Homo sapiens: one gene and its partners. The protein of the gene in region 1 purifies or fractionates together with the protein of each later gene. This does not show direct contact. Each region holds a gene or a part of one and is shown in the gene's direction. Other genes may lie near its edges.

Region 1 (3,995 bases):
TCTTGACTCACTGCAGCCTTGAACTTCTAGTCTCAAGCAATCCTCCAGCATTGGGCTTCCAAAGTGCTGGGATTGCAGGTATGAGCCAGTGTACCTGGCCTAAATTTGCTGTTTTTAACACACATTGTGGGTTTGGAAACTATATAACCAAATTTGTTAAAACTATATTTAGAAAGAATTGCAAGTTGGTTTTGAATGAAGTAAGCAGGATTGCGTATATCTTTCTTAATTTCCCATTCAGTTTTTCCTTTCAAAATGGAAAAATAAGAATTATAGGCCCAGCACAGTGTCTCTTGCCTGTAATCCCAGCACTTTGGGAGGCTGAGGTGGGCAGATCACTTGAGCCTGGGAGTTCAAGACCAGCCTGGGCAACATAGTGAGTCCCCGTCTCTACAAAAAAAAAAAGAATTATAATAACTAGATACCATGTTGTAAACGAAGTTTCACCCAATATATTAACATTTTTAAGTGAAAATTATTTTGGCTACTTTTTTTTTCAGTTAAGATGAATTTACTTTTTCTTTTTGCTTTTTTTTTTTTTTTTTTTTTTTTTTGAGATGGAGTCTTGCTCTGTAGCTCAGGCTGGAGTGCAGTGGCGTGATCTTGGCTCACTGCAACCTCTGCCTCCCGGGTTCAAGCAGTTCCCCTGCTTCAGCCTCCTCAAGTAGCTAGGACTACAAGTGCGTGCCCCCATGCCTGGCTAATTTTTGTATTTTTAGTAGAGAAGGGATTTCACTGTGTTGGCCAGGGTGGTCTTGAACTCCTGACCTAGTGATCTGCCTGCCTCAGCCTCCCAAAGTCCTGGGATTACAGGTGTGAGCCACCATGCCCAGCTGAATTTACTTTTTCCTTTTTTTTTTTTTTTTTTTTTTGAGACGGAGTCTTGCTCTGTCACCCAGGCTGGAGTGCAATGGCGTGATCTCGGCTCACTGCAAGCCCCGCCTCCCGTGTCCATGCCATTCTCGTGCCTCAGCCTCCCGAGTAGCTGGGACTACAGGTGCCTGCCACCACGCCTGGCTAATTTTTTGTATTTTTAGTAGAGACAGGGTTTCACCGTATCAGCCAGGATGGTCTCGATCCCCTAACCTCGTGATCCACCCACCTCGGTCTCCTAAAGTGCTGGGATTACAGGTGTGAGCCACCGCACCTGGCCAATTTACTTTTTCTTTATAAATGGATGTTTTATTAGTACCATGTGAAACATTACATGAAGATAGCATTATTCTTGATGGCAGTGGCTTCTTTGCTGTCAATATCAAGTATACCTGGCAGTTGGTATTTAAAGCTCACCTCTGTTTATCATATACAACTTAAAATTTGTCCAAATGGAAATAAGTACTTTAAAGTTTCTTATGGATCACTCTGACATAAAACCTAAACGCACTTGGTTTTTATTAGACCTCTTTCTAGTAGTTTTCAGTTTTGTTTTTTTAGATGGGGCCTCACTGTATTGCCCAGGCTGGAGTGCAGTTGCTGATCTCGGCCCACTGCAACCTCCGCCTCCTAGGTTCAAGCGATTCTCCTGTCCCAGCCTCCCGAGTAGCTGGGATTACAGGCGTGCTCCACCATGTCCGGCTAATTTTTGTATTTTTTGTAGAGGCAGGGTTTCACCATATTGGCCAGACTGGTTTCAAACTCCTGACCTTGAGTGATCTGCCTGCCTCAGCCTCCCAAAGTGCTGAGATTACAGGCATGATCCACTGTGCCTGGCCAATAGTAGTTTGATTTTGAATAAGAACAGTTACATTTGACTATGATCCAAGAGTGTGAGTTGAATAACATTCAAAACCATTTTGCTTTTTTTTTGTTTTTTTTTGGTTATAGGATCTCACTTTGTCACCCAGGCTGGAGTGCAGTGGCACGATCATGGTTCGCCACCATAGCCAGCTAATTATTTTTTTTTTTATTTTATTTTTTTTGATGTTTTGTTGACATGGGGTCTCACTATGTGGCCCAGGCTGGTCCTGAACTCCTGAGCTCCAATGATCCTCCCACATTGTTGGGATCGGGCCTGGCCTCTCTTGCATTTAAAATGGATCTTAATTGTATAAAAATGGGCTTATTGGCTAGGCGTGGTAGCTCACGCCTGTAATCCCAGGACTTTGGGAGCCTGAGGCGGGTGGATCACCTGAGGTCAGGAGTTCGAGACCAGCCTGGCCAACATAGTGAAACCCTGTCTCTTCTAAAAATACCAAAATTAGCCGGGTGTAGTGGCGGGTACCTGTAATCCCAGCTACTCGGGAGGCTGAGGCAGGAGAATCACTTGAACCCGGTGGAGGTTGCAGTGAGCCCAGATCGTGCGATTGCACTCCAGCCAAAGTGATGGAGCGAGACTCCATCTCAAAAAAAAAAAAAAAGATATATTTAGAAGAAAGTGATCATAATTAACATTAAGTGATCTTAGACTTCATTTTACTAAACTGAGCTTTTGAAGAGGTTTGTACTCATGCGGTAAGATTGGATCAGGTACTTATAATGAATAATAATGGTATGATTTCTTTCAGATATGTTAATGAATACACCCAGGGCACACACGGTTGAAGAGGTTAATACTGATGAGGATCAAAAGGAGGAGTCAAATGGATTAAACGAAGACATTCTGGACAATCCATGTAATGATGCTATTGCCAATACTTTAAATGAAGAGGAAACACTGCTGGACCAGTCTTTTAAAAATGTGCAACAGCAACTTGATGCTACATCCAGAAATATTACTGAAGCTAGATAAGTTTCCATTAAGAGAAAATGTATCTGTTAAGTCATCGTCCTGCAAGCTTGGCGTTACTATGTATTTTTTCTTCTTGGAGTGAAAATCCTTAGATAGTAAAACTGTTATAGATTATTGTTTAAAATCTGATAATCTGGTATTTATTTATAATTATGCTTGTCACTTTAGTTAAATCTATTTGTTCTCTTTAGTGTTTGTTTTTATATAGGTATTTCTTCATAAAATGATTAGGAGGTAATAAGCAGTTTCTGCTGCTGGTCTGTCATTGAATGCCTTGTTTTCACTAAGTTGGGAGGTTTTGTTTCTGTTTTTTACTGCTCCTTGCAAAGCAGGGCTAATCCATGGACAGTGTGCCCAGAGTAGTCTAGTTGAAGTTTTTTGTTTTGTTTTGTTTTGTTTTTTTTGACACAGAGTCTCACTCTGTTGGCCAGGCTGGAGTGCAGTGGCACAGTCTTGGCTCACTGCAACCTCTGCCTCCTGGGCTCAAGCAATTCTCCTGCCTTAGCCTCCCGAGTAGCTGGGACTACAGGCGTGTGCCACCACGCTTGGCTAATTTTTGTACTTTTAGTAGAGATGAGGTTTCACCATGTTGGCCAGGCTGGTCTCAAACTCCTAACCTCAGGTAATCCGCCCCCCTCGGCCTCCCAAAGTGCTGGGATTACAGGTGTGAGCCACCGCGCCCAGCCTGGGTGAAGTTTTGAGATGTACATATATACTGAATATTAATGTCAATTTTTTAAAAGAAGTAAAAATTATCTTAAAAACTATCTACAGGCTTTATGGGAGGTTTTCATTGCTATATAGTTCTGCAGTTTACACTTTTGGTAAATACAAGATTTTTACATGTTTTCTAAGGAGTTACTTTAATAGTTAAAAGGTCACATGAAAGGCCGATACATTGCCTGGCCCTCATAGGTGCTAGGGTAGTTCAAAGAATGCTTTTTGGGAACTTACTGACTAGTTGGAGTGAAACTTGCAAAGTATCGTGGGGAACATAGCATCTCGGGAGGATTTACAGGAAAGACTTTGCTTTTGGTGGAGGAGATTCCAAGTATTGGGAAGCACATGTACAATAATGATACAGAAATAAGATTAAGGGGATAAGGCAGATTTTAGGAATGCTGATTTTGAGGTTAGATGTGTTAGGGCCAAATCGTGAGAACACCTGATTGGAGTTCTTCCTGCCAGGTAGAGGGGGTAGTTACAAATAAGAAAGGTTAGTGTTAGGAAAGGCTCTCCCACCCCACCCCCTCACCCCTACCCACAG
Region 2 (3,725 bases), on another chromosome or scaffold:
ACACCTCATTTCCATGTATTCTTATTTCTGTTCTGCTTCTTAAATCCCTGACTAATTTGTTAGTTTGCAAATTCCCTACAGAAATGGAATCATTGGGTTTGAGACTGAATTTCTTGATTTAACATTTTCCAATCTTAATTATACATGACAGTAGTAAAAGAAGAGTTAGTTGTTGGGTTTTTTTGTTAGTTAGCAGTTAAACCTCACAATCATGGTGGAAGGCAAGGAGGAGCAAGTCACTGATGTCTTACGTGGATGGCATCAGGCAAAGAGAGCTTGTGCAGAGGAACTCCTCTTTTTAAAACCATCAGATCTCGTGAGACTTACTATCAGAGAACAGCAGGGGAAAGACTTGTCCCCATGCTTCAATTAACTCCCACCAGGTGCCTCCCACAACATGTGGAAATTCAAGTCGAGATTTGGGTGGGGACACAGCCAAACCATATCAGAAGGGAGGAGTAACTTGCCCCAAGTTACAGAACTGCCAAACATGGGCCTGTCTGAGCCTAGTTGTTGGACTTTAACCAATGTTCTGAATTATCATTCAGGTTCTTTGTACTGCCTGTGTCCTTAATCTAGTTGACTCGAATGTACCTGCAGGTTTCAGAGCAGCGATGGAGAAATTAAATACTTGCAATTAGCAGAGGAACTGATTCGTCCTGAGAGAAACACATTGGTTGTGAGTTTTGTGGACCTGGAACAATTTAACCAGCAACTTTCCACCACCATTCAAGAGGAGTTCTATAGGTATGGGCATATTAATCTTCTTTACTTTGAATAGGGGTTGAAATCCGGGAAGCCAGCTCTTCTTGGACTGTAAGTGTTCACTTGTGTAGCAGAAGGTCAGCTTTCACAGTTATTTCCCACTGAGAAGAGGCGCTTTGATACTGCCAGTGGTCGTTTTAGTACTGCTCTGAACTTCATGTAGGCCTTTGTAGAGCCGAACGTTTTTTTGTTGTTGTGTTTTGTTTGTTTGTTTGTTTGTTTGTTTTTTGAGACGGAGTCTTGCTCTGTCACACCTAGGCCGAAATGCAGTGGCGCGATCTTGGCTCACTGCAACCTCTGCCTCCCGGGTTCAAGCGATTCTTCTGCGTCAGCCTCCCGAATAGCTGGGATTACAGGCGCCCACCATCACGCCCGGCTAATTATTTACATTTTTTAATAGAGACGGGGTGTCACCATGTTGGTCAGGCTGGTCTCGAACTCCTGATCTCAGGTGATCCGCCCGCCTCGGCCTCCCAAAATGCTGGGATTACAGGCGTGAGCCACCGTGCCCGGCCAGAGCTGAACTTTTTTTTTCAAATACAAATGTTGAAAATCTTTGCTTTCTATATAGTTTTCCCAAGAGGAAAACTGTACTTACTTACTTTTGTGTCATTCCATTGATCCTTTTTCCCCACAGGAATAGGTGTTTGTGTGGGTCCTTTTCTTGTACTGGGGATATCTTTACAGCATTGACGTTGTTGTACTTCTTGTTCCCTTAAAGTTTAATTTTGTTTTCGCTTATAAAAGTAATAGGTATATATTGTAGAAAATGGAGAAGAGTAAGGAGAATTAAATTGCTTATACACTTGTAATCCACCACCGTCATTAGCAGATCTGCTACAACAGAGTTCCAGGAGCCTTCCAAGTCTGCAAGTGCAGAGTTTTGTAAGGATCTTCTGTCACATTTTGATGTCTTTGTGTGTATGCTGTGTATGAAATTACTCAAATTCATATAAAATTTCTTAAACTCATACTAATAGCTCCAATTGTGGTTTTTTGGTAGAAATACTATGGTTAGACATTATATTTAATAGAAGGCTTTTATTTTGTTTTGACTTGTTATATATAGCAAGAAACATCTTTGCACACAAGACTTTGTATTAGGATTAAATAAATGTGACAGTCTATAGAAATAGAATCAGGTTAAAATAAATTGTGGACAGTTGTGAAAGATAAATGAAAACCCAGGGATAAGGAGGCACAGTCTCGTTCATTTCTTAGTAGATTAGGAGATGGAGGATTTGTCTGTGTTTCTGGTCATAGCTGATGATCAAGAATAATTGGAGGGGGTAAGTAAGCAACAGGATTTATTGTGAAAGCATGCAGCAGTAGAAGTTATAGCACTGACAAATAAGGGAGAGGTAGACAATCAAGCCTGGTGGTAGAAGCAGCTGTGCCATGCCTCATGCACAAGCCAGGCAGCAGTTCTCTTTCCTGAGAGTAGCGCCTTTTTTAGAGGGTTTCAGACCCCACTTCTTAAACAAACTAAGCTGGAGTAGGTATTAGAAACATATCAAAAGGACATGCATACTTCACTCTCACCAGTCAAATGGAGCATTTTTGCCAATTTGTTCTCACATTAGTGCACAAATACTTCTCCTGTCCTCATCCATTTCTTATCAAACCAGCCAGATGTGGTGGCTCACACCTGTAATCCTAACACTTTGGGAGGCTGAGGTGGATAGATCACTTGAGCCCAGGAGTTTGAGACCAGCCTGGACAACATGGTGAAATCCCATTTCTACAAAAAAAACCCCACAAAAATTAGCTGGGCATGGTGGTGCATGCCTGTAGTGCCAGCTACTCAGCAAGCTGAGATGGGAGGATCACCTGAGCCTAGGTAGATTGAGGCTGCAGTGAGCTGTGATCGTGCCACTGCACTCCAGTCTGGGTGACAGAGTGAGACCTTGTCTCAGAATGAAACCAAAGAAATTGACTGACTTGACACATGACTTACTAAGTCATAAACAGCCCACAGAAAATTCACAGTATTGAGCATAATATTGACAAGATGATTGTTCAGCTAGTCATCTTGGACAGAGGAATGGCCAACAGTGTGGGTGCTGTATGATTATTTATGTGCTATATGATAATCAGGTATGGTATGACATTTTATATTTAGTGTTCCGGTGGGATAGGAGAGAACTGAAAGAGGGTCCTAAACCTAGAGTAGATAATAGAAGTGTCCTACACAGTTAAGTTCTAAGGTTTAGTTGTAACCAGATGAAATTCCTTAATCTCGGCTGTTGGTAGGTATGTAAAGGGAAGGAGGCCTTGGTAAACCTCTAAGGTATCAGCTGACTTTTTTGTTTTTCAGAGTTTACCCTTACCTGTGTCGGGCCTTGAAAACATTCGTCAAAGACCGTAAAGAGATCCCTCTTGCCAAGGATTTTTATGTTGCATTCCAAGACCTGCCTACCAGACACAAGTAAGAAACCCTTCTCTGGAAAAAAAGGAATTCACCAAATGGTATAAGTACCACTTAGCTGACAGTCAGAAAACTTGAGAGGTTGCCTTGATCTGCTATTAGCTGGCTATTTAACATTATACAAATCACTTTTACCTCCCTGAGCCTCAGTTTCCTTGTCTGTGAAGTCTTTTGGCTTAGGTTTTCTACCTAAATCATGCAAAAAATAGGTTTGTTGCTGTAAAATTACTTTTTCATAATTGATAATCACAATAATTATAAAACAAGTACTTATAAAATTGATGCTGTAAAATACCAGGAGGAAAAAATAGTGGTTTGCATTCAGATTTTGTAGAAGGTTGACTTTTGTAGGAGTTATACCCACTTATCCAGAAAGTTTAGTGTTGGAGAAATGTATTTTCCTATGGAGATGGGATTAGATGTAAAGGGAGTGAAGCAAATTTTTAGGATTATCACATTTTAGGGCGCCTTTTAGGGAAATTTGGGAGAAAATTGATCAAGGGAGAAAATATGAAATTCTAGAAATTCCTGA
Region 3 (3,414 bases), on another chromosome or scaffold:
GGTAAGGGCTTCAACATAGAGATGTGGGGGAGACCGTTCAGCTCATAACACCCTCAGTACTTCCTGCACCTCTGAGAAAGGATATTTTCTTGCCTCATCACCACGGATTCCTCAACAATGATAGACACTGTCATGGGAGATCCAGCCTTTGTTGAAGTGGCGTCAGCCATCTCAGAGCTGCCTTCCTTGAGCCAGACCCAGCCATGGCTGTGGCACTGTGTGGCATTGGTTCACCCCGCACAGCAGCCCCTGCTAACTCTTTTGTGCCTGTGATGTGGGAGAGGTGGATGGACACCCACTGGCCTGCAGAATATCTGGCCTTCAGTATACAGGGAGGACTCGGGCTGGGAACTGCTTGGTTTCCCTGAGGGTGGAGAGCCAGGGGTGAGGGTGCAGAGTGGGCCATGTCTAGTGCCCACCTGCGTGGGCTGGGTCTGGGGCTCTCGGGGCTGTGGCTGGCAGCATAGATGGCTCCCAGGGCCAGGCCAGCCCCATCCTGGGGCCTGGTTTTGCTTTGTGGTGAGGGTCTGGGTGCTCAGCTGAGCCTGAGGGCCCTGTGAGATATGGGCAGTTTGCACCATGTCCCCTTGTGCGGAAGAGAACACTGAAGCCGAGGAATTGGCCAGAGTGCGGCCAAAAGTGACCTGCCCCACCCAAGGACTTCCACAACCCACTCTGGGGACGGGGGTTCATGCCAGCTGGGGTGGGCAGGCCCGTGTTTGTCCAGGTCTGTAGGGCCCTTCCCTGTGTCACCTCTATTGTCTTCCCGGGGGGGAGTTCTCCCTGCAGGCCCCAACCCTGACCTCTCTAGCAGTGCAGACAGCAGTTGTGAAGATGAAGTACAGTGAGACAGACACAACCACTGAGTGCAGAATACCACAGGCCGGGAGGAGCCGCGCACTTTGGAATGCAGTGGAGGGCAGGCAGCGGAGGGGAGTTCTGTGCCCTGTCTTGTGTTCCCACTCCTCCCTTCTCACGGCTGTTTTTCTTTCATTACTTCAGTAATTGAGCTGAAAGCTGAGGATCGGAGCAAGTTTCTGGACGCACTTATTTCCCTCCTGTCCTAGGGTGAGTTACAGGGGTTCTGCAGGGGTGGCTGCAGCAGCCCCCTCAGAGCCCGACCCTGATGCCCTGCTCTGTCCTCCCTCAACGGAGGCTTCTACTTGGGTTTCAGACCGAAGCAGGGTTCTTGAGATTGGAGCCAACACATTTTTCCCAAGCACATCTGTCCTTAGGCTGCCAGCAGGGCCACAATGGGGCATTTTGAGGCAGCTAATTTCATTAAGCCCCTGCGATCCCTTCAGAAAGAGCTGGTATTCACCCTCTGCTGACCACACTTGGGCTGGGCATCGCGTGTGACACATGTCACACACAGACTCCCTGGTGCTGCCCTCGAAGGCCACCTGGAGCCTCCTGTCCCACAGCCTTCGTGTCAGGCGCTGGGCAAGAGCCCGCAGAGCAGCCATCCGGGCTTTTGTGTGCTTGGCTCATGAGAAAGCAAAGCTGTTGGCAGCCGCTTAGCTGGGAATTCCAAAGCGCTGGTTCTGCTGGGGCCTTCACCAGCACACAGCTGTCCTGAGGGCCCCATTGGGATTCACTGGCAGGTCACTGTCCCGGGACACCTCCCACTGCCCCATGTGCTACCTCTTTCTTAAGGGTTCCCAGGAAATAGGCCTGCCTTGTGTCTTTGTAACCATCTCTCAGCCCAGGTTCCCCACAGGGAATGCCACATCCAGCCCTGCATCTCCCAGAGCCCTAGCCTGGAGGCTGCGGCTGTGGCAGATGGGCCCTGCCAAGACTCTGTTGCAGGAGGTCCCTCAGGCCAGGCCTGGGGTCCTCCCCACTCTCCCATCCGTCCGTCCATCCATCCATCTGTCCATCCCTCCAGGGGCAAGCACCTGTTCTCCTGTTGGGGCTGGAGTGGGGGTTTCTGCTGACAACAGCATAGGGGGCCTCAGGGACCCCACAGTTCCTCTCAGGGTGGCCTGGGCTACATGGGGCCCATTTTGGGCGCGGGGCTCTGAGTCAGACCCTCGGGGTTTTTGGCAAGTTCTGTAGGGTCATCAGCAGTGACCTTGGGCCAGCCACCTAATCAGGCTTAGCCTGTTTCCTCATCCAAAAATGGGGCCCACTCTCTCCTTAGACGATGAGTGTGAGCATCACAGGACTGCATAGGGTGGGGCGGAGGCAGAGGTGGGGCTCTCTGGCAGTGGAGTGGGTGCTAGAGGCAAACCCCTCCCCTGCAGCCTGCTTGGTGGTGATGTTATGCTGCTGTGTGTCCTTCCACTGAGGCAGGGGCACAGGTGGCCTGGGCTAGGAGGGCTGAGCAGCAGAGTGCCGAGGGATGGAGGGAGAGCCCCCATGGGAGGGTGCCAGGGGGCTGGCTGAGCAGCTGGGCGGGGTCCGTGAGGTAAGAAGGTGCCCGGGCCAGGGGGCAGGAGCTCTGATGTAGGACAGCTCAGCCCAGTCAAGGGGTGCTATGAGGACAGCAGGGGCCTCCGAGTCTGGGGTGGCCTCACCCCCACAAGCAGTCCTGGCTACTCAGCAGCACTACCCAGAGGGGACGCCTGGGCAGTTTCTTCAATTCGGTGGCACATCAACATCGTTTGAAACTTGTTTTTTCTTGTTTTGTTTTCTAGAATTTGATTCTTCCAGAATGACCTTCTTATTTATGTAACTGGCTTTCATTTAGATTGTAAGTTATGGACATGATTTGAGATGTAGAAGCCATTTTTTATTAAATAAAATGCTTATTTTAGGCTCCGTCCCCATTGTGGCTCTGGTCTCGAGGCCAGTGCTTGAGTGTGCTCTGAGCCTTCTGTGGGTCTTGGGCCCCAGGAGCCCTCAGTGCCTGGCAGGAAATCAGCATGGGGATTGGCCCCAAGGACAAGATCTCCTTACTCTGTCCTCCAGGCCCTCCGGGTGGCAGTGGACAGAGGTCAGGACCCCTCGGCATCCCCGCCTCCTCATAGCACCTGCACCGGCCACTGCCTGGTGGTGCCAGCCAGCACCTGGCTCTGTCCACCTACCACTTCCTCTGGTCCACCTGGCCTCAGCCACATAGCAAGTCCACCCTCTCAGCCATCCCTCCACCTGTGGGTCTCACCATCCAGCACTCTTTTCCAGGTCTTTGAAGGCAGGAGTGATTTGGGTAGGTTTTAAGTCAGTGGGGAAAAGCTCAGAAAGAGTGGCCTGGAAAAGAGCACACAGGTAGGTGGGGCTGGTCTTGGTGCAGCCCTTGGCAAAGGGCAGTGGGCACAAAAGGGTGAGAGCTGGACTGGAGGCTGGGCCCCTCCCCTCACCTCTGGTGGTTTGCACAGCTTCCCGGGACCCTTGAGCTGCCTACCCTGGCCATTTGGGAAAATTCAAAGGCTGTGCAGCTTCCTTTCCATGCCCTTTCTTTCCTTTTTTTGA

Evidence for each region.
Region 2: the proteins of TIPIN (region 1) and MCM6 purify together in Homo sapiens (co-immunoprecipitation; one study listed by IntAct). This does not show direct contact.
Region 3: the proteins of TIPIN (region 1) and CDC45 purify together in Homo sapiens (affinity purification with mass spectrometry; one large-scale study listed by BioGRID and IntAct). This does not show direct contact.

The regions. Positions count from the first base shown.
Region 1 is NC_000015.10:66,335,691-66,339,685, reverse strand, and holds the end of TIPIN (TIMELESS-interacting protein), read left to right. Parts: intron 1-2,504; coding exon 2,505-2,728; 3' UTR 2,729-3,495; downstream 3,496-3,995.
Region 2 is NC_000002.12:135,869,719-135,873,443, reverse strand, and holds part of MCM6 (DNA replication licensing factor MCM6), read left to right. Parts: intron 1-600; coding exon 601-747; intron 748-3,082; coding exon 3,083-3,193; intron 3,194-3,725. UniProt on the Homo sapiens protein: Acts as a component of the MCM2-7 complex (MCM complex) which is the replicative helicase essential for 'once per cell cycle' DNA replication initiation and elongation in eukaryotic cells.
Region 3 is NC_000022.11:19,517,842-19,521,255, forward strand, and holds the end of CDC45 (cell division control protein 45 homolog), read left to right. Parts: intron 1-1,002; coding exon 1,003-1,067; 3' UTR 1,068-1,068; intron 1,069-2,639; 3' UTR 2,640-2,767; downstream 2,768-3,414. UniProt on the Homo sapiens protein: Required for initiation of chromosomal DNA replication. Core component of CDC45-MCM-GINS (CMG) helicase, the molecular machine that unwinds template DNA during replication, and around which the replisome is built.